Linked DNA regions of Homo sapiens. The protein of the gene in region 1 interacts with the protein of each later gene in a pairwise test. Each region holds a gene or a part of one and is shown in the gene's direction. Other genes may lie near its edges.

Region 1 (6,085 bases):
CATCACTTCCGGCCCAGCTGCCTTTCCGAAGTGCCCATCATCTTCACCCTGCTGGGCGTGGGAACCGTCACCTGCATCATCTTTGCCTTCCTCTGGAATATGACCTCCTGGGTGCTGGACGGCCACCACAGCATCGCCTTCTTGGTCCTCACCTTCTTCCTGGCCCTGGTGGACTGCACCTCTTCAGTGACCTTCCTGCCGTTCATGAGCCGGCTGCCCACCTACTACCTCACCACCTTCTTTGTGGGTGAAGGACTCAGCGGCCTCTTGCCCGCCCTGGTGGCTCTTGCCCAGGGCTCCGGTCTCACTACCTGCGTCAATGTCACTGAGATATCAGACAGCGTACCAAGCCCTGTACCCACGAGGGAGACTGACATCGCACAGGTACCCAGCATCACCCGGAGCCATCTCAGCACTTGGCTTTATCACAAATGTAGGGGAGGGAAAAACTGCTCACCTCCATCCTTCTAGGTTCTTTGGTCGGCCTATGAGTTAAACTGACATAAGGCAGATCAACAGCAGGAAACTCATTTTAATTACTTACATACATACGCATGGGAGTCCCCAAAAAATATGAGACTCAAAAAAGGGCCAGATGATTTCAGCTTCTATAGCATCCTGAGCTACAAAAGGGAATAGGGGCTTGAGGCTACTGCAGGATGGTGGAGACAAATTATGGGAGAGTGAAGGGAGGAAACTTATGGTGAATAAACATTGCACTGTTATGCAGATAAAAGTTCCTCGGGTGATAAAGGCCATCACCTTTCTCTTCCTGGTTCAGATACCCCTTCGTGGTACAGATACCTTTTCTTGGTACAGATAAGATAGCTTTACTAATAAAAATTTCCTTTAGATGTAAATTTATCTTACAAAATGGCAACTTTTCAGAGCTACTCCTTAGCCTGCAATTTTTCAAAATAACCAGCTAGAAATAAAAAATATGCCAATAGGTCAATTTTGGGGTGGCATATTCTGGCCTCCTACAGTCATATTTTGGGATGGCATGTCCTGAAGGCCCTTATTTCCTAGACGATGGGTGGAGCAGTGTTCTTCCTTAGGTGGGGGCTCTCCCCTTAGGTGGGGGATTCTCCCCTTAGGTGGGGGCTCTCCCCTTAGGTGGGGGATTCTCCCCTTAGGTGGGGGCTCTCCTCTTAGGTGGGCGGCTCCACTGCTCAGTCTCCAGCTAGCTCCTCCTCTGAACATGTTTGTGGTTGCCACTGCTGTGGGGTGATAAAAGGTGTAGCTTCCAAGTCAGAAAGCACCAGGTGGAGTCTGGCTTTGCCACATTCTCCCTGTGACCCTCAGGTAAGGGACGAAGCATTCTGATACCTCAGTTCCCTCTAAAATGGGGGATGATGGTGCCCACTGTGCAGCCCTGTTAGGAGGCATAGGGGCTTATCCATGCACAGTGCCCGTGCTCAGTGGGCAGTCAGTATGAGCAGTCATTATTGCCACCTTGTTAGTTATGTTTATTTATTCATTATCCATTAATAATAACAGGTGATCTGTATTCTGTTATCACTGTCATGATTGTTGTTCTGCAGCCTGATCCCCTCCCCTGACCAGGGATCTGTCTTGTCCTTTGCAGGGAGTTCCCAGAGCTTTGGTGTCCGCCCTCCCCGGAATGGAAGCACCCTTGTCCCACCTGGAGAGCCGCTACCTTCCCGCCCACTTCTCACCCCTGGTCTTCTTCCTCCTCCTATCCATCATGATGGCCTGCTGCCTCGTGGCGTTCTTTGTCCTCCAGCGTCAACCCAGGTGCTGGGAGGCTTCCGTGGAAGACCTCCTCAATGACCAGGTCACCCTCCACTCCATCCGGCCGCGGGAAGAGAATGACTTGGGCCCTGCAGGCACGGTGGACAGCAGCCAGGGCCAGGGGTATCTAGAGGAGAAAGCAGCCCCCTGCTGCCCGGCGCACCTGGCCTTCATCTATACCCTGGTGGCCTTCGTCAACGCGCTCACCAACGGCATGCTGCCCTCTGTGCAGACCTACTCCTGCCTGTCCTATGGGCCAGTTGCCTACCACCTGGCTGCCACCCTCAGCATTGTGGCCAACCCTCTTGCCTCGTTGGTCTCCATGTTCCTGCCTAACAGGTGTGCCCTCATCTGGTCCTAGGGAATCCTAGTGGGGGAACACTTCATTTCAGAACCCAGAATTCCAAACGCACCTACTGGGCTGTACATGTAGTGGTTAAGAACATGTTTGGGGAGCACCCTGGTCCAAATCCCAGCTCTGCCACCTGTCAGCTGTGTGTAAGACAAGTCACTTCAGTTCTCTGTGCCTCAGGGATATTTATCGGAAAATGGGAGTGTAACATTCCACCTCCTAGGACTGCTGGAAGCATGATATGAGCTGATTCTATAAAGCTCTTGGAGCGGTGCCTGGCACGTGGCAGGTCCAGCCTAAGCGTTGACCATCATTGTCATCAGTCCATGAGGAGGAGCAGATAGCCACTGAGGTTCCCGTTTATAAGGGGAAACCCTGAGGCTTGGAGAAAGAGCTTGACCTGGTCTAATTCCCAGGATTTCGGCCCTGCCTTCCTGCCTCTAACCTCCTGCTGGTTCCCTTAGAGCCACAGTTCTAGAAGAATGGCTGGGCAAGTTGATAAAATGCAGATTGAACCAGCCTAGACTGGGACCTGGGATTTCAATTTTTAGTAAGGAAACCAGACGGTTCTGAGGCAGGGGCTTCAGACCCCTGTAGGAGAACTACCACCTTGGGATCTTGACATTTGAGGTGGGTCCTACAGCCTCGTATCCACGCTGGCCTGCCTGTCCTCACTGGCCTGCTTACACCCACTCTCCCAGCCCAGAAGAAGGACAGTGAGGACAGAAGAGCTTGACAGAAAGCTTGCCAGGAAGCTGGATTTTCTACCTTGGGACCTAGAAACTGGAAAGAGGATGGAGGATTTGAGGGAAGCAGGACCAAAGGCTCAGACCTGCAAATCCAAGAAACCCCAAATGTTAGAATTACAGAATCTGAGTCATGGAATCCAAGAATCTTGGAGCAGAAAGAGTCTTTAAGGGTATAGGCAGACCTCTGTCTGTTCTTACCCAGGGCGTGGACCAGTCTTGGGGTTCTAGAGATTGGGACCCCAGGGACAAGGACCTGTGAGGAAGGACAGTGGTCCCAGATGTAGGTTTGCATGGAAGGCCACCTGTAGAGAGATGCTCCTAGCAGCAACAAGCCAGCTGCCAGGACCCCTGGAGATCAGCACACTCCACATTGCAGAGGCAGGTAGCTGAGGCCAGAAGGGGAGGGGTCTCCTGAGGAGGCACAGCAAACCCTACTGTGCCAATGCCCGATCCAGCCATCTTCACTTCAACTCAGCTTCCTGGCTGAGGCTGAGGGTGTGTTGCAGGAGGAAATGCCAGCAGGTAAACACCAGGTGGGCCCACAGCGGCGCCAGGCCTGCATGCTCTGCTCCTGGAGGTCATGCAGCCTTGCAAAACTCCGATTTGGAGGCTCAGAGGCGAGTCTCAGCTTAAACAGTAGAACTGGGATTTGAACCAGGACCATCCGGTGCCAGAGTCCATTATGTTTTTCTTGCCGGGGTGCCAGGCCCTGCCGTTAATGCTGGGGATGACTCAGGCCAGCCCTGCCTGCTCAGGAGCCTCCCTGACCCACTTGAGCCAGGCAACCTGGAATTTTCCACATGGGTCTAAACTAACTATGGAGACACTGGCCATCCACATGCCGCCCAGTGGGGCGGGGGGGTCAGAGGTCAGGCTTCTCACCTCCACTCACCTCCCCTACTTTCCTCTAGGTCTCTGCTGTTCCTGGGGGTCCTCTCCGTGCTTGGGACCTGCTTTGGGGGCTACAACATGGCCATGGCGGTGATGAGCCCCTGCCCCCTCTTGCAGGGCCACTGGGGTGGGGAAGTCCTCATTGTGAGTATCCGGCCGGTGGGGCTGCTCCCGCTGCGTACCCCTCACCCCTAGCCAAGGCCTGGGAGAGCTTGGGCGCGGCCCTTTCCAGCGAGCGGGGTCTGTGGGACCCTCCCGGGAAGCCCCAGGTGGGGGAAGCGCCCCTTCCTCATTTGGGAGTGGAGGCTTAGGGAATCGAGGTGACTGGTAGGCCTCTTCCCACCATGTGTACCTCAGCAGGGGCCTTCTCTCAAGGGCCCTTGCCCTGATCATGGGCACGTGAACCCAGAAAAGCCACTGGATTCTCCTTCGCCCCCGGGCGGCCAACTCATGGGACCCGTCGGCCCCGCAGGCTCACTCCCAGAAGGCGCTCCTCGCACCTAGAGAGTATTCCGTGGGTTCCCCTGAGCCCTGTGAGAGTTCTTTGCTCCGGCGCTCGCCCCGCAAGCCCCGTGACTCTGCACCTCTTCCCTCCCGGCCCCGCAGGTGGCCTCGTGGGTGCTTTTCAGCGGCTGCCTCAGTTACGTCAAGGTGATGCTGGGCGTGGTCCTGCGCGACCTCAGCCGCAGCGCCCTCTTGTGGTGCGGGGCGGCGGTGCAGCTGGGCTCGCTGCTCGGAGCGCTGCTCATGTTCCCTCTGGTCAACGTGCTGCGGCTCTTCTCGTCCGCGGACTTCTGCAATCTGCACTGTCCAGCCTAGGCAGGCCGCCGACCCCGCCCCCATCGCTCACGGACGGAACTGGGGTCCAGAGAGGCCAGGTCACAGAGCAAGGGGCAGGAACAGAGAGACAGAGCCTGAGTAATTGAATCATGAACGCAAGTGCCCACTGGGGACTGTGGGGAAGATGGCACCTGGAAATGCAAGGTGCGGCTCTATCCCCAACTCTGTGTCACACTACCTGTGACGACCAGCTCAGATCTCCTTTGCTTTGACTCTCAAGAGAGGACTGATTTGCAGCATCTAGCTGGAGGCAGGCCCAAGGGTGTTAGAAGGGAAACAGCTGGGACAGCCGGCTGTCCCTTCAGGCTGTGTGACCTTGGGAAAGTCATTTGGCTTCTCTGTGCCTGTTTCTTCATGCATGCAGTGGGGATTCCAGTAAGTACCAACTACCTCACAGGCATGGCACGGAGGCAAAAGGAAAAAGCAGCCCGCATCAAGCAAGCCCTCCTGGGCCACCTGCTGATCTGACAGTCCATCGTAGTAACAAGAGTGGCAGTCTGCACAACCTAGAAGTGGCCAGAAGGGTTGAGACACGCCCCTGCCCTCTCTCCTTTGCCCCTCAGTCTCACAGAGGGGCTTCTACAAGACAAGCAGATAACGATAGAATCTTGGGCATCTTGGCTTTCGGATTCTCAGTGTGGAGGGACGTAGTACCCCACACACCCCTTCCTGTCATCCTTCCTGGCCCATAAAGCCCACTAGTTGGAGAGTAAGTACCCTCCTGGAAGCCGGGAGAGATGATTTGCTGGTGGGGCTGGGGAAGGCCCATCCCTGAGCCTCTGAAAGTGAACTCCCCGACCAGGTTGGGGACCAGACATGCAGAGCCCCTGGAAGTATTCTCTCAAATGGAGGCAACAGAGGTGATTGTTATTTTGTTTTAGTTTCTGTTTTTCATTTTTTTAAATAAAGGCATTCCCTGCTTTTACACTCAGATCTTCCTTCAAAGGAGAAGTTCAGGCATGGCACAGTGGCTCACACCTGTAATCCCAGCACTTTGGGAGGCCAAGGCGGGCAGATCACTTGAGGCCAGGAGTTTGAGATCAGCCTGGCCAACATGGCAAAAACCCATCTCTACTAAAAATACAAAAAATTGCTGGTCATGGTGGCACATGCTTGTAGTCCCAGCTACTCAGGAGACTGAGAATTGCTTGAACCCCAGAGGTGGAGGCTGCAGTGAGCTGAGATCGTGCCACTGCCCTCCAGCCTGGGTGACAGAGCAAGATTCTGTCTCAAAAATAATAATTTTAAAAAGAAGAAGTTTAATGTGAACTCCGAAAATGTGTAATTAGTTTTCACTTGGTTCTAAGCTCAAGGCTGAGCTCAGAAATGAACAGAATCAAGTGCTTAAGGATGTCTGGTTCTGGGGCTTTTTTTGTTTTGAGATGGAGTCTTGCTCTGTCACCCAGGCTGGAGTGCCGTGGCGCAATCTCAGGTCACTGCAACCTCTGCCTCCCAGGTTCAAGTGATTCTCCTGCCTCAGCCTCCTGAGTAGCTAGGA
Region 2 (7,964 bases), on another chromosome or scaffold:
AAATACAAAAAAATTAGCCGGGCATGGTGGAGGGCGCCTGTAGTCCCAGCTACTTGGGAGGCTGAGGCAGGAGAATGGCGTGAACCCTGGATGCGGAGGTTGCAGTGAGCTGAGATCACGCCACTGCACTCCAGCCTGGGCGAGAGAGTGAGACTCTGTCTCAAAAAAAAAAAAAAAAGAAGAGTAAGATTCCTCTGCCCCTCAAAAGCTGATAGTTCAGTAGTATATAAAGTAATACTTCCAGTATGATGTAATGGTGCTGTAATGTAGGCATGCTCAAGGTGTAGCGGTGGCACAAAATACTTTTCCTTAGTGAACTTTCCAGAAGTAAAAGGAAGAAGCTAGTATGACTAGAGTCTGGAGTGACTGGGGCAGAGAGAATTTGGGGAGAACAGAACAGGACAGGTGGTTGGTCCAGATCACAGAGCTTTTCAGGCCAGCAATAGGATGGCAATAGGAAGTCACTGAAGGATTTTTTTTTTTTTTTTTTTTTTTTGAGGCAGAGTCTCACTCTGTTGCCCAGGCTGGAGTGCACTGTTGCGATCTCATCTCACTGCAACCTCTGCCGCCCAGGTTCAAGCAATTCTGCCTCAGCTTCCCAAGTAGCTGGGATTACAGGTGCCCACCACAACACCCGGCTAATTTTTGTATTTTTAGTAGAGATGGGGTTTCACCATGTTGGATAGGCTGGTCTTGAACTCCTGACCTCAGGTGATCCACCCGCCTCGGCCTCCCAAAGTACTGGGATTACAGGCATGAGCCATTGCACCCGGCCATCACTGAAGGATTTTGAAGTCAGAGTTGTGTAATCATTTAAGAATCCCTGCCAATGTAAGTCCCCTGAAGGTGGGACTGTTTGTGTTTTTCATGGTTATAGTCCCAGGGCCTGATATGCAGTTATTCTTGTTAAACAAAAGAAAATCTTGTGAGATTTGCATTTTTGGAAGATCACTGACAGCACCATGAATTAGACATATTGAGACTGGAATCAGAAGACCAATTCAAAGATCCTTGGACTAGAGTACACAAGATACCAAGAGGGCTTGAACTAAGTAGTAGCAATGAAGACAAGGGCAAGAGAGAGTTAGGAGTGGATTTATAGCATTTGAGGACTGATTGGAATAAGGGGTGACGTGGAGAAGTTGTGGGAAGAGAATAAAAAATGATTCCCAGATACTTGGTGCTATGATCTGAATGTTTGTATCTTTCCAAAATTCATTTGTTGAAATGTAGTCTCCAGTGTGTTGGTTTAACAGATGGGGCCTTTGGGAGATGATTAGATCATAAGGCCAAGCCTTGTGACTGAGATTAGTGCCCTTATGCAGAGAGGAAGCTTGTTTGCCCCTTTTCCCCTTCCACCATGTGAGGACAAAAAAATGCACCATCTATGAGGAATGGGCCCTCACCAGACACTAAATCCGTTAGAGCCTTGATCTTGGACTTCCTAGCCTGTAAATTTATTACAGATCTGTAATAAACTTCTGTTTATAAATTACTCTAAGATATCTTGTTAAAGCGCCCCAAAAAGACTAAGACCTTCGACTTCATTAATTCATTTGAAAGACATCAACTACAATTTAAAAAAACAAAACAAAAACAGAAAAGGTGGTTTGCAATTTTTTTCACTTCATGAGACTATAATTTATTTCCCTGGGTAGGCCACACAAATCCTTAAGAACATGGACTTTCCCCCATACAAGGCTGTGAACCGTGCACACAGAGATGCTCGATAAATGGTACCGAATCCTCTCCTTCAGCACCTGGTCCTCTCTGGCAGTCTCCATTCTCTTACCTCTCACTGCCCCCTCTACTTCTCTGAACCTGCAGTCCCCAAAGTCACCAATGGTCTCCATAGCAACAAAATTTAGTGGGCTCTTATACGACCTTATATTGCTTGACTTCTTGGCAGCAACTGACACTGACTACCCCTTGAAGCATCCCCTGCCCAGGCCTTCCACAATGTCACACTCTCTTGCTTCTCCTCCCTCCTCCTTGGTTATTGCTTCTCCTATCCTCACGGCTCAGCTCTAGCCCTCTTCTCAATCACTTCCTTTTCCCTAAAATGATTTTATTCACTCCTATGGTTTCAGTTACTTTTTTTTTTTTTTTTTTTTGAGACACAGTTTCACTCTGTTGTCCAGGCTGGAGTGCAATAGCACGATCTTGGCTCACTGCAACCTCTACCTCCCGGTTCAAGTGATTCTCCTGCCTCAGCCTCCTGAGTAGCTGGGATTATAGGCATGAGCCACCACGCCCGGCTAATTTTTGTATTTTTGTAGAGATGAGGTTTCACCATGTTGGCCAGCCTGGTCTTGAACTCCTGGCCTCAAGAGATCTGCCTGCCTCAGCCTCCCAAAGTGCTGGGATTACAGGCATGCACCACCACAATGGCCTTAGCTATCTGTTTTTTAATGACAATTCCTCATTGAGTTCAAAGCAGCCTCCTGAACTTCAGACTCGGTATCCAACCATTACTCAACATAATTACTCAAATGTCCATAGATATTTCAAATTCAGTATCTCCAAAATGTAAACTCTATCTTATTCTCTTCCCAAAACCTTGCTGCTCCTCCCATGTTTCTGCTCTCAATACCACTCCTGCCACAGTGGCTGCCCAGGTCACAAACCCAGAAGTCACCTTCACATTTCTGTCTCCTACCTTCCCCAATCCCTCATTGTGGTAGGAGTTATTAAGAAATTATTTTAGGCAGATAGAGAGGAAAAGGGGTCCTTGAAAAGTTTTTGTCTCTTTTGAAGCAGCTCCTGAGACGTTTCCTGTCTAGCATAAAAGCCCTGACTTTTAGACCCGAGCTGGCAACGTTTGATATGCAAATGCCGGCAGTTAGAAACTGGGTCCACCAACACGGTGATTCCCACCATCGTCCTCTTGCCCTTGTTCTCACAAGTGCCTGGCAACATGGCCACCCCCACATATCCCCACATGAGTAGAACATCATAGCGCCCTGCATTTGCATATTAAAAGGCTAGGGTGGAATGGCCAGTTTTATTAGGGGGCTACATGAATGACATGCGTGGTCAAACCAGTCCCCTGAGCCCTATGCAAATCAGACACCGCCTCCTGCATCCTCCTCCTATAACTGGCTGGTATCTCCCACGCACTCTGGGTCTCCTCTCTCAGCTTTGGAGCACCCATCCCTCTGTCTCTGTACAGGGGAGCTGCTTCTTTCTTTCTTCTCCCTTCCTTCTTGCTTATTAAACTCTCCGCTCCTTAAAACCACTCCACGTTTGTCCATGTCGTTTTATGTAATTCGACTCAAGACGAAAAAGGCTAGTATTCCTCCACTCGGTATCATCACCACATTCTGTTGAGTCTCTTTACGTCCAAAGAATCTCTCAAAATGGGCTATTTCCATCTTTAAGACACTCTCTTAAACCACCATCGTCTCTCCCAAGATTCCTTCAACAGCAACTGCTTTTTTCTGCAGCCAGTGATCTTTCTAAAAGGCAAACATGACCACATGTCTTCTTTTAAAATATTTATATAGCTCCCCACATCCTTTAAAAGGTACACTTTGGCCAGGTGCGGTGGCTCACGCCTGTAATTCCAGGACTTTGGGAGGCCAAGGCAGGTGGATCACCTGAGGCTGGGGGTTCGAGACCAGCCTGGCCAACATGGTACAACCTCTTCTCTACTAAGAATACAAAAATAGTTGGACTTCGTGGTGCACGCCTGTAATCCCAGCTGTTTGGGAGGCTGAGGCAAGAGAATCACTTGAACCCAGGAAGCAGAAGTTGCAGTGAGCGGGGAGATTGTGCCACTGCACTCCAGCCTGGGGGACAGAGAGAGGGCCGTCTCAAAAAAAAAAAAAAAAAAAGTACACCTTAATCTGGTTTCAAGGTGCAAGATCTGCACCTATCCTTCCATTTAAGTTTCATCAAACCGCTGCTACCTCCCCGTCTCCCACACAATTTATGGGACTTCTAAGTTCCCTCTAAAGGGTCCGAACACCTACACTGGTAACAAGCCACCTGGATTTGAATCCTGGCAAGACAACTTACTATCTGACCTTGGACATTGTGCTGTTCTTAACCTCTCCGTGCCTCGGTTTCCTCATGTGTATGAATAACATCAACACCTACATCAAAGTTTGCTGTATTAAATTTGATAATATATGCAAAGCATTTAGAAAAGTGCCTAGCTCATAGAAAGCCTTATGTAAATATTAACTATCATTTTTTTTCTTTTTTGGGGTGGTGGGGGAGGGGTTTCGCTTTTGTTGCCCAGGCTGGCGTGCAATGGCACGATCTCGGCTCACCACAACCTCGGCCTCCCGGGTTCAAGCGATTCTCCTGCCTCAGCCTCCCGAGTACCTGGGATTACAGGCATGCACCACCACGCCCGGGTAATTTTGTATTTTTAGTGGAGACGGGGTTTCTCCATGTTGGTCAGGCTGATCTCAAACTCCCGACCTCAGGTGATCCGCCCGCCTCGGCCTCCCAAAGTGCTGGGATTACAAGCGTGAAGCACCTCGCCCGGCCTAGCTATCATTTTTATACAAGTGCTGGGTTTTGGGAGAATGTAATGATGGCTTTTTTCTTACTAAACTTTCAGTGCAGGAGGAGGAGAAAGAAAGTAAATAGTTATATGAACACAGTAGAAAGTCAAAGTGGAAAACAAAAAGAACATAGAACCCAGGTGAGCGGTCCAGACCTCCCCCCAGAAACCTAAGAATCCATAGAAATGGGTGGGAAGCGGAGAAGATCCTCCAGACAGCAGGTGGCGATGTAGCATCCCCCAGAAGGCCCGCTAACAGAAGCTAGGAGGACGCGCTACCAAGGTCACGTGTCCCCGGCGTTCACTCGCTCTTCGCTTCACGACACTCGCATCCTCACGGGTGATTGGTCTGCGTGCGGCACGTGGGCGGGGTACCGGGGCGGGCCGGGGAGGGGCGGGGTGGGCGGAGGAGAGGGGCAGGGGGCGGAGCTGGAGGGGGTGGTTCGGCGTGGGGGCCGTTGGCTCCAGACAAATAAACATGGAGTCCATCTTCCACGAGAAAGTGAGTGTCCGCGTTCGGTGGGGAGCTGTCTGCCGCGCGGTGGCGGGCGTGGAGCGCGGCATCACCGCCTCTCGGAGGGCTGGGTGGGGCCCGAGTCGCCCCCATGCCGATCTCGCCCGGCGAGGGGCGACGCCGCAGCCTCCCGCCTCCTCGGCTCGAGGAGGGGAGCATCACCTACGCCCCTACTTCCCCCGCGGCCCCCGCCCTGGGAGCCGGGAGGGAGTATGGGCGGGGCCGGGGGCGTCTCGGGACACGGGAGTGGGGTGGCGCCCAGTGGGTTTGCTTCTGCCTTTCTCCGTCACTTTCCATCGCTTTTCGGAGGATTCCTTCACCCCTCCCCAATCCTTCCCTCTCCCTAGGGTCTAGCTAGAGTCATCTCTGGGACACCTCCCTCAACCCCTCCTACCCTAATCCTGGCAGAATTAACTTTTCCTCCTCCGGACTGCTCAATTCTATATTGGAGTCTTCCCTACACGTAGATCTTTGGGGTCTTGTTCGTGTCTTTCCCCTGCACTAGGTCCGCGAGCCTCCCGAGGGAGGAGACCTTGGCTCGCCCACTGTAGGGCCTGACATTTAGGAAGTGAAGTAGGAAACCCGGCGTGCCCCTAAACAGGGAAGTCGTCACAAGAGTTTTTATTACGGGATGTTTGGGTTTGGTTTCTTTTGGTACTCCCATCTTTCCGGAGCAGGCGGCCAGCTTTGTTTTTAGGTATTAGGAGTGGACTGGGATGATTTTGTTGTAGTCTGCCTAGCCTGCTGTCCCTTTAACTCTTCCGTGACCATGCACTTGAAGATACTGTTTGTGATATGTAAAGAAACTCCTCGTTTCTCTCATACTATTATCCAGCCATTTGTGTGTGAGTGAAGCCTTCCCCAGGACAGCTTTGGCACATGGTATCATGTTTCATAATAGTTTCGTGTTTGGAAAGAGTTGCTGGTAAGGCTGTTATTTAATAGGAGGAGCAAAGGGTTTTTGTTTTATTAAATACTTATAAATGATCATTTATCCCAGACATTTAAAATTCACACACACACAACAAATAAAGCAAAGACAAAAGAATACATTTACCAAATGTAAATCTGTAGCATAAATTTTTTTTAATTTTTATTTTAAAGATGGGGTCTCATTCTGTCACCCAGGCAGGTGTGCAATGGAGAGATCATGGCTCACTGCAGCCTTGATCTCCTAGGCACAAGCGATCCTCCCGCCTCTGCCTCCAGAGTAGCTGGGACTACAGGTGCATATCGCCAGGGCCAGGTAATGTTTTTGGGAGAGACGGGGTCTCGCTGTGTTGCCCAGGCTGGTCTCGAACTCCTGGACTCAGGTGATTCTCCCACCTCGGCCTCTCGAAGTGCTGTGATTACAGGCGTGAGCCACTGTGCCTGGAACAAATTGTTAAGTACAATGCTTTTCATTGTAGAAAACATCTCGGAAACTTTTGAAATAGGCTGATGTTCAGTGGGGGAGGAAGGACTCAGTCGTATAGTTGTCACTAATTTTTTGACTTGATTGACATGACTCGTAAATCATAGACAATAGAGATTTGGTTGCTTGGCTGAGTAGAGTGCGTGAAAAATACACACGTACTTTTTTTTTTTTTTTTTTGAGATGGAGTTTGGCTCTTGTCACCCAGGCTGGAGTGCAATGGCGCCATCATGGCTCACTGCAACCTCCGCCTCCCCGTTCAAGCGATTCTCCTGCCTCAGTCTCCCCAGTAGCTGAGATTACAGGCGCCCGCCACCACGCCCAGCTAATTTTTGTATTTTTAGTAGAGACAGGGTTTCACCATGTTGGCCAGGCTGGTCTCCAACTCCTGACAGGTGGTCCGCCCGCCTCGGCCTCCCAAAGTGCTGGGATTACAGGCGTGAGCCACCGCACCCGGCCATATTTTTGTTATTAATTTTCAAAGGCTTTGGTGTGGGACCACATTTCAACATGGAAGGCCTTAAACATGTTCCACACTACTTCCTGAGAATTAGACAAGATTTTTAACAATATTGTTACCTAGTTGGGACACATTTGTACTGACCCATGGGATGAAAAAAAGCTGAGTGCTAGCCTAGTGAAAATCTACTTACCCGAAAGAAATCCCTCTTAGTCTGGGTGCAGTGGCTCACACCAGTGCTTTGGGAGGCCCAGACGGGCGGATCATGAGGTCAGTAGTTTGAGACCAGCCTGGCCAACATGGTGAAACCCCGTCTCTACTAAAAATACAAAAAATTAGCCAGGTGTGGTGGCAGGCGCCTGTAATCCCAGGTACTCTGGAGGCTGAGGCAGGAGAATTGCTTGAACCCGAGAGGCAGAGGTTGCAGTGAGCCGAGACCGTGCCACTGCACTTCAGCCTGGGCAACAGAGCGAGACTCCGTCTCAAAAAAAAGAAAAGGAAAAAAGAGTCCCTCTTAATTATCAGCATGTGTATAGGCCTACAGATACTTCAGGAATACCTTTACCATTATCATCAACTTGTATCTACATAGCATGTGAAGATTCAACAATTTAGTTTTTTGGGCGTCCTCAAGAGTACGCACCTATAACCATATGGCCCAATTGTTAATCTCCTATACAGTCCATTCTGGGAATGTTTGGGCTTACTGTGCCATTTTTCCGTTCACTGCCTTCCCCTCTGCAATATACCTTTAACCCTTGCTAGGTCCTGGGTTTGGAGAGCCAGAGAACCAACTTTGGCCCTAAAGAAGCTGTGTAGGTAGCAATATCTGCCTACGAAGGGCCTTGCAACCATTTCCTCTTGGAACCTTGGTTTCCTCTTTCTGAGTAGTCACTTTGAGTACCCTTTATTAAGTTAGAATGTAAAAACAGTTTCTCACTGATATATCTGCAGTGCCTGAGAGAGGGCCTGGCACAGAGTAAGTACTCAATAAATATTTGAATGGGGCCGGGCGTGGTGAGACCTGTCTCTACAAGAATGAACAAAATTAGCTGGGCGT
Region 3 (6,489 bases), on another chromosome or scaffold:
GTCTTAGCACTTTGGGAGGCTGAGGCAGGAGGATCACTTGAGCCCAGGAGGTTGAGGCTGCAGTGAGCTATGATCATGCCACTGCACTCCAGCCTGGGCGACAGAGCAAGACCTTGTGTCCAACAACAGCAACAACAAATTTGAATGAATCACCACCCTTTGAACACCAGAATCTGCACGGCCATCCTCTTTGGGAAACCCTAGGGTTTCCGAGCCACACTGGGTCCATAGTCCCATCAAGTCCACTAACTGGAGTGAACACTGCAGGTGTGCGCCTTCTCTGAATTAACTTAGGCTGGCATCAGAATAACTGCAGGAGGGAGAACGGCCATCTTCCCCATTTCACAGACAGAAAACAAGGCCAGAGAGATCAAGTAACCTGCCCCAAGTTCCTTAGGAAAGTGGGAAGTGGGATTCAAACCCACGTTTACCCTGGTTGCAACCATACCCTTGGGTTGTGTTGGGCAGCCGCTGTGTCCTAATGATCTGGGGCCCAGCCTCTTCCTCATGGGCGTCACCCGCCTGGCCCCGGGTTCCCTGGAGACTCTCAGGGCTCTGGGCTCCTCTTCAGTGAAATGCAGCTGTACTGATAGTATCTCCAGCTCAGGCTGCTAGAGGGCTCAGGGCACTTGTGTATCAGGCCTTTGGCATGGCACTAGCCACTCAGGAAGCTTTATAAACCAGCTTTGGGGCCGGAGCAGTGGCTCATGCCTGTAATCCCAGCACTTTGGGAGGCTGAGGAGGGAGGATCACTTGAGCCCAGGAGCTGAAGACCAGCCTGGGCAACATAGCCATACCCCAGTCTCTACAAAAAATTTAAAAATTAGCTGGGCGTGGTGGCAAATGCCTGTAGTCCCAGCTACTCAGAAGACCGAGGTAAGAGCATCACTTGAGCCCAGGAGGTTGAGGCTGCAGTGAGCCATGATTACGCCACTGCTCTCCAGCCTGGGTGATGGAGCAGGAACCTCTTTCAAAAAAAAAGTGTCTTGGGTTTTGTATATGAATGTCAACCACAGAAACCTGCGGATCTAAGTAAAACTCCCACACAGGGTGTGGCTGGGCATGGTGGCTCACATCTGTACTCCCAGCACTTTGGGAGGCTTGGCAGGAGGATCACTCGATCCCAGGAGTTCAAGACCAGCCTGGACAACATAGTGAGACCCCATCCCTATTTAAAACACACACACACCTCCCACGTGCCATGCCCTCCCACCCTGTTGCTCCCATTCTCAGTAGTGATCAGTGTTCACAGTTTCATGGTGTCCTGGTATGTTTCCTCATATACCGATAGGATCGGAGACATATACGGTTCTTCTGCTATGAAATTTAAAATGCATATATCCTTTGACCCTGCAAGTTTACTTTTAGGAACTTCTCTAAGAGAGACAATTGCCCACGTGCAAAGTGAGCTTATACATGCTTATTGTTTTCCATGATGTTTTATAGCAGCCAAAGATGGGACATAATTATCCATTTTTAATAGACTCTTATAAAATAAAAATATTTTATTATTTAAGAAAATAATAAATCTGTCGGCCCAGCTACTCGGGAAGCTGAGGCAGGAAGATCACTTGAGCCCAGGAGATCGAGGCTGCGGTGAGCAAAGATCGCTCCACTGCATTCCAGCCTGAGTGATAGGAGTGAGACCCTATCTAAAAAAAAAAAAAGTTGTGACGGCCAGGTGTGGTGGCTCATGCCTGTAATCCCAGCACTTTGGGAGGCTGAGGCGGGCACATCACGAGGTCAAGAGACTGAGACCATCCTGGCCAACATGCTGAAACCCCCCTCTACTAAAAATACAAAAATTAGCTGGGCGTGGTGGCACGCGTCTGTAGTCCCAGCTACTCTGGAGGCTGAGGCAGGAGAATCACTTGAACCTAGGAGGTGGAGTTTGCAATGAGCGGAGATCATGCCACTGTACTCCAGCCTGGTGACAGAGGGAGACTCTGTCTCAAAAAAAAAGAAAAAAAAAAGTAACTGAAAAACTTCTGTATCCAGTAGGAGGTTCCAGAAAGGACAATGTATAAAATTCATGAACAGAAACTAGTAGTGTTTGAACAGAAGCCAGGTGGAAGATGTAACAGGATTAGCCGGGCGCAGTGGCTCACTCACGCCTGTAATCCCAGCACTTTGGGAGGCCAAGGCGGGTGGATCACCTGAGGTCAGGAGTTAAAGACCAGCCTGGCCAATATGGTGAAACCCCATCTCTGCTAAAAATACAAAAATTAGCCGGGGGTTGGGGGGCACGCCTGTAGTCCCAGCTACTTGGGAGGTTGAGGCACAAGAATTGCTTGGACCCAGGAGACGCAGGTTGCAGTGAGCCAAGATTGCACTGCAGCCTGGGTGACAGAGTGAGACTCTGTCACAAAAAAATAAAGATATAACAGGATTGGCTGGGCGCGGTGGCTCACGCCTGTAATCCCAGCACTTTGGGAGGCTGAGGCAGGCGGATCATAAGGTCAGGAGATCGAGACCATCCTGGCTAACAGGGTGAAACCCTGTCTCTACTAAAAATACAAAAAATAAGCTGGGCGTGGTGGCAGGCGCCTGTAGTCCCAGCTACTTGGGAGACTGAGGCAGGAGAATGGCATAAACCCGGGAGGCGGAGGTTGCAGTGAGCTGAGATTGCACCACTGCACTCCAACCTGGGCGACAGTGAGACTGTCTCAAAAAAAAAAAAGCAAAAACAAAAAAGATATAACAGGATTATTCTGCCAAGGTTAAGGAAATAAATAAATAAGCTAAAACAGGAGAAAAGACATCAATGGAAGAGGCAAGATACTAGAAATAAGTTGAATAAGAATCTCATAACCAGCCTGGGCCACATGGTGGAACCCTATCTCTAAAAAAATTACAAAACTTAGCCAAGCATGGTGTCAACGTGCCTGTCGTCCTAGCTACTTGGGAGGCTGAGGCAGGATAATTACTTGAACCCGGGAGGCGGAGGTTGCAGTGAGCTGAAATTGAGCCACTGTACTCCAGCCTGGGTGACAGAGCAAGACTCTTTTTCAAAAAAGTCTGGGGGTGGCCCCGCCCTGTGAGAGATGTTTTTCCAGCAGTCACTGTGGGTTCTGGGTTGGGGTGATACACAAGCCTGACCCTCCCCAACCCCTGCCCGCAGACGAAGGCCTTCATCCACCACGAGCTGCTGGCCTACCTATACTCCTCGGCAGACCAGAGCAGCCTCATGGAGGAGTCGGCTGACCAGGCACAGCGGCGGGACGACATGCTGCGCATGTACCATGCCCTCAAGGAGGCGCTCAACATCATCGGTGACATCAGCACCAGCACTGTGTCCACGCCTGTACCCCCGCCTGTCGATGACACCTGGCTCCAGAGCGCCAGCAGCCACAGGTCCGGAAGCCTGGTTCCCCTACCCTCAAGCATTCGGCCTGCAGGTTCCTGCCCTCCCTGTGTGTCCTGCAGGGTCCTGGCAGGAAACAGGACACAGCCCAAGGGTGGCACCCAGGGCTGGGCACTGTGGGAGCTGCTGCCCTGCTGAGGCCGGAGGAGGGAGAGAAGGGGTATGGGGGCGAGCCAGCCCTACAGCTCTAGGGCAGGACCCTGTGAATAAATACCCCGCCTGCCCTCTGCTGGTGCCTTCCATTGGCACAGCCCAAATGGAAGCTGGGGTAAGAGGCTGGAGGGGCAGCAGCCACAGGAGAGAGATGAGCCTCCTGGAGCACAGAGAAGGGCAGATGGGAGGCTCTGGAGGGGCAAACGCAAGGCGTGGCCAGAGCTGCTGCCGCCCCTGAGTTGTCCATTGAGGCCGTCGGGCAGGGAACCTCAGAGGGGGCTGCCTTGCAGAGCCCTGGGGGAGCCATGGAGTTCCTTAAGGGGAGGATATCGCACCCAGGCCTGCAGGTGGCAGGGACTGAGGCCCAGGAGGGAATCTGGATGTCTGGACAGGGCTTGCAGGTTCCACGGCCCCTAGAGATATTAGGGCTTGATCTGGAGGACTCTGGAAGTGTCTTTGGCTGTGAGGGTGGATCCCAGGCCCAAGGCCTGAGGGGGCCCTGTGAGTGGGAAGTGCCTGAGGGGGCCGAGGGCAAGGGAAGGTGGGACTGGCGCTCAGGTTGGGGTGGGAGGATCCCACTGCGCCTGCGCTGTCCCCATAGCCAGCCCCCACCTCAGGTTCTGGCAGCCACAGTGGCATGGCGGGGGCTCCTACTCCATCTGTATCTGTAGCTCACACCCTCTCCTTCCTCACAGCCCCACTCCACAGCGCCGACCGGTGTCCAGCATACACCCCCCTGGCCGGCCCCCAGCAGTGAGGGGCCCCACTCCAGGGCCCCCCCTGATTCCTGTTCCCGTGGGGGCAGCAGCCTCCTTCTCGGCGCCCCCAATCCCATCCCGGCCTGGACCCCAGAGCGTGTTTGCCAACAGTGACCTCTTCCCAGCCCCGCCTCAGATCCCATCTCGGCCAGTTCGGATCCCCCCAGGGATTCCCCCAGGAGTGCCCAGGTAAGGCCAACCCCCTGCCCTCCACCCCAACTGCCTGCACCCTGGGGTCTCTCCTCCTGTCTCACTTCCTCCCAGTGAGCTCTCACTACGTGCCCAGCTGCTGGAGTGGAGGAATCGTCCTCATCCCTATTTGGCTTGCGAGGAAACAGGCCCAGAGAGGCCAAGAGGCTTGTTCAGTGTCACAGAGTAGCGGAGCCCTGGTGACTCCGGGGCTCCCAGCTTGCCCTCTGCCTACTGGGGTGTGCCACCAGGCAGCTGGGGAACCCTCACACTGGGCACCTCCTCCCACTGTTTACCTTCTTCTCCTTCCTGCTCCTGCCTGCCTCAACCTACCGTGGGCCAGGCTTTATTCTCCCCACTTCTCCGGTGGGGAAGCTGAGGCCCAGGGAGGGCAGGGGGCTCACTGAGGGTCAAACAGCAGGCGAGTTGATGCCTAGGTTTGGCACTCCTGCCCGACACCCTGGTGGCTTGCGGAGGTCAGCCTGGGAACACCCTGGGGTGGTGTGTGGGTGGGGGCTGGGTCCTCAACCCAGGCCTGCCTCTTGCTCCCGGCCTCACTGCCGTCTCCCCCTCCCCACCTGTCTTTATTCTCTTTGCAGCAGAAGACCCCCTGCTGCGCCCAGCCGGCCCACCATTATCCGCCCAGCCGAGCCATCCCTGCTCGACTAGGCCTCGAGGGGGGCGTGCTCTCGGGGGGGCCTCACGCACCCGCGGCGCAGGAGCTTCAGTGGTCTGGGGCCCTCCGCCGCCCCTATGCTGGGACCAGGCTCCCAGTGGGCAGCCCTGGCCTCTTCCTTAACGCTGGCCCCGGTCCAGGGCCGGCCCCTGTGCCTGGCTGGACACCGCACTGCGCAAAGGGGCCCTGGAGCTCCAGGCAGGGGGCGCTGGGGTGTTGCACTTTGGGGGATGGAGTCTCAGGGTGGCAGAGGGGGGACCAGAACCCTTGACACCATCCTGAATGAGGGGTCCAGCCTGGGGGGGACTCTACCAAGGTCTTCTTGGGCTGGGAAAGCCCATGTAGGGCAGGCCTTCTATAAGTGCGGGCACCAAGGGCGCCTACATCCCCAGGCCTTGCTGGGGTGCAGGGGTATATCAACTTCCCATTAGCAGGAGCTCCCCAGCGGCAAGCCTGGCCCAGTGGGCTCGGTAGTGCCCAGCTGGCAGGCCTGAGGTGTACATAGTCCTTCCCGGCCATATTAACCACACAGCCTGAGCCTGGCCCAGCCTCGGCTGCCAGAGGTGCCTTTGCTAGGCCCGGAGCCGTTGGCCCGGGCCGGCCTTGCCCTATTCCTCTCCTCCTCCTCCTCCTGGGTCCCCCAGGGTGGCTGGGCTTGGGCTATGTGGGTGGTGGTGGCGGGGGGTCTTGGGGGCCTCTCAGCTCCCGCCCATGCCTCCCTGATGGGTGGGCCCAGGGCGGCCTCTCTCTGAGGAGACCTCACCCACTCCTCGCTCAGTTTGACCACTGTAAGTGCCTGCACTCTGTATTCTATTAATAAACTAAAATAAAGGGAAGACGCTGCTGGTGGCTGCTGTGTGGGCCTCTTGTGTTAGTGTTCAGGCTGGGGACATGGGTGCCACCTCCATCAGGCCTCCCATAAGGATGCCCAAGTCCCTGCACTCATAAGTGCCTCCCATCTCCCTGAGGGCTCTGCTTTCGGGGGTGTCACCTTTCAGAGGAAGCCACTCGATACAGGGGAGAGCTTTTACTTTCCTTAGCATGTGAGGAGTGGGAGCAGATATTCTCTGACCCCCTGCACACCCCCACGTGCACAGGCCTGGCTGCTGCCTGGTGAAGCGGGGACCCCAGCGCTCCACCCCCTTCCTACCCTCAGGCCCTGCTTCTCTCACCTCGTGGGGAAGCCCAAGCCTCGTGGCCCAACTGGGGCTCAGTTAAACTTTGCTTTCTGATTTTTCTCTTGTGCCAGGCGACCACCTCCATCGGCTCCCGCACGACCTTTCTTCTGAGCTTCGTGGGAGGCCCCTCCCACCTGTCTGGCTGCCCCCTCGGGGGCCGGTCTGTCCTGG

What was found.
Region 2: the proteins of SLC52A3 (region 1) and ATXN3 interact in binary tests that used the Homo sapiens proteins (3 or more experiments, as listed by UniProt).
Region 3: the proteins of SLC52A3 (region 1) and DNM2 interact in binary tests that used the Homo sapiens proteins (3 or more experiments, as listed by UniProt).

What each region holds. Positions count from the first base shown.
Region 1 is NC_000020.11:759,507-765,591, reverse strand, and holds the end of SLC52A3 (solute carrier family 52, riboflavin transporter, member 3), read left to right. Parts: coding exon 1-384; intron 385-1,588; coding exon 1,589-2,094; intron 2,095-3,767; coding exon 3,768-3,891; intron 3,892-4,353; coding exon 4,354-4,566; 3' UTR 4,567-5,512; downstream 5,513-6,085. UniProt on the Homo sapiens protein: Plasma membrane transporter mediating the uptake by cells of the water soluble vitamin B2/riboflavin that plays a key role in biochemical oxidation-reduction reactions of the carbohydrate, lipid, and amino acid metabolism.
Region 2 is NC_000014.9:92,103,583-92,111,546, reverse strand, and holds the start of ATXN3 (ataxin-3 reference isoform), read left to right. Parts: upstream 1-4,964; 5' UTR 4,965-4,994; coding exon 4,995-5,018; intron 5,019-7,964. UniProt on the Homo sapiens protein: Deubiquitinating enzyme involved in protein homeostasis maintenance, transcription, cytoskeleton regulation, myogenesis and degradation of misfolded chaperone substrates.
Region 3 is NC_000019.10:10,825,915-10,832,403, forward strand, and holds the end of DNM2 (dynamin-2), read left to right. Parts: intron 1-3,058; exon of another isoform or gene 3,059-3,121; coding exon 3,122-3,354; intron 3,355-4,212; coding exon 4,213-4,464; intron 4,465-5,063; coding exon 5,064-5,133; 3' UTR 5,134-5,989; downstream 5,990-6,489. UniProt on the Homo sapiens protein: Catalyzes the hydrolysis of GTP and utilizes this energy to mediate vesicle scission at plasma membrane during endocytosis and filament remodeling at many actin structures during organization of the actin cytoskeleton.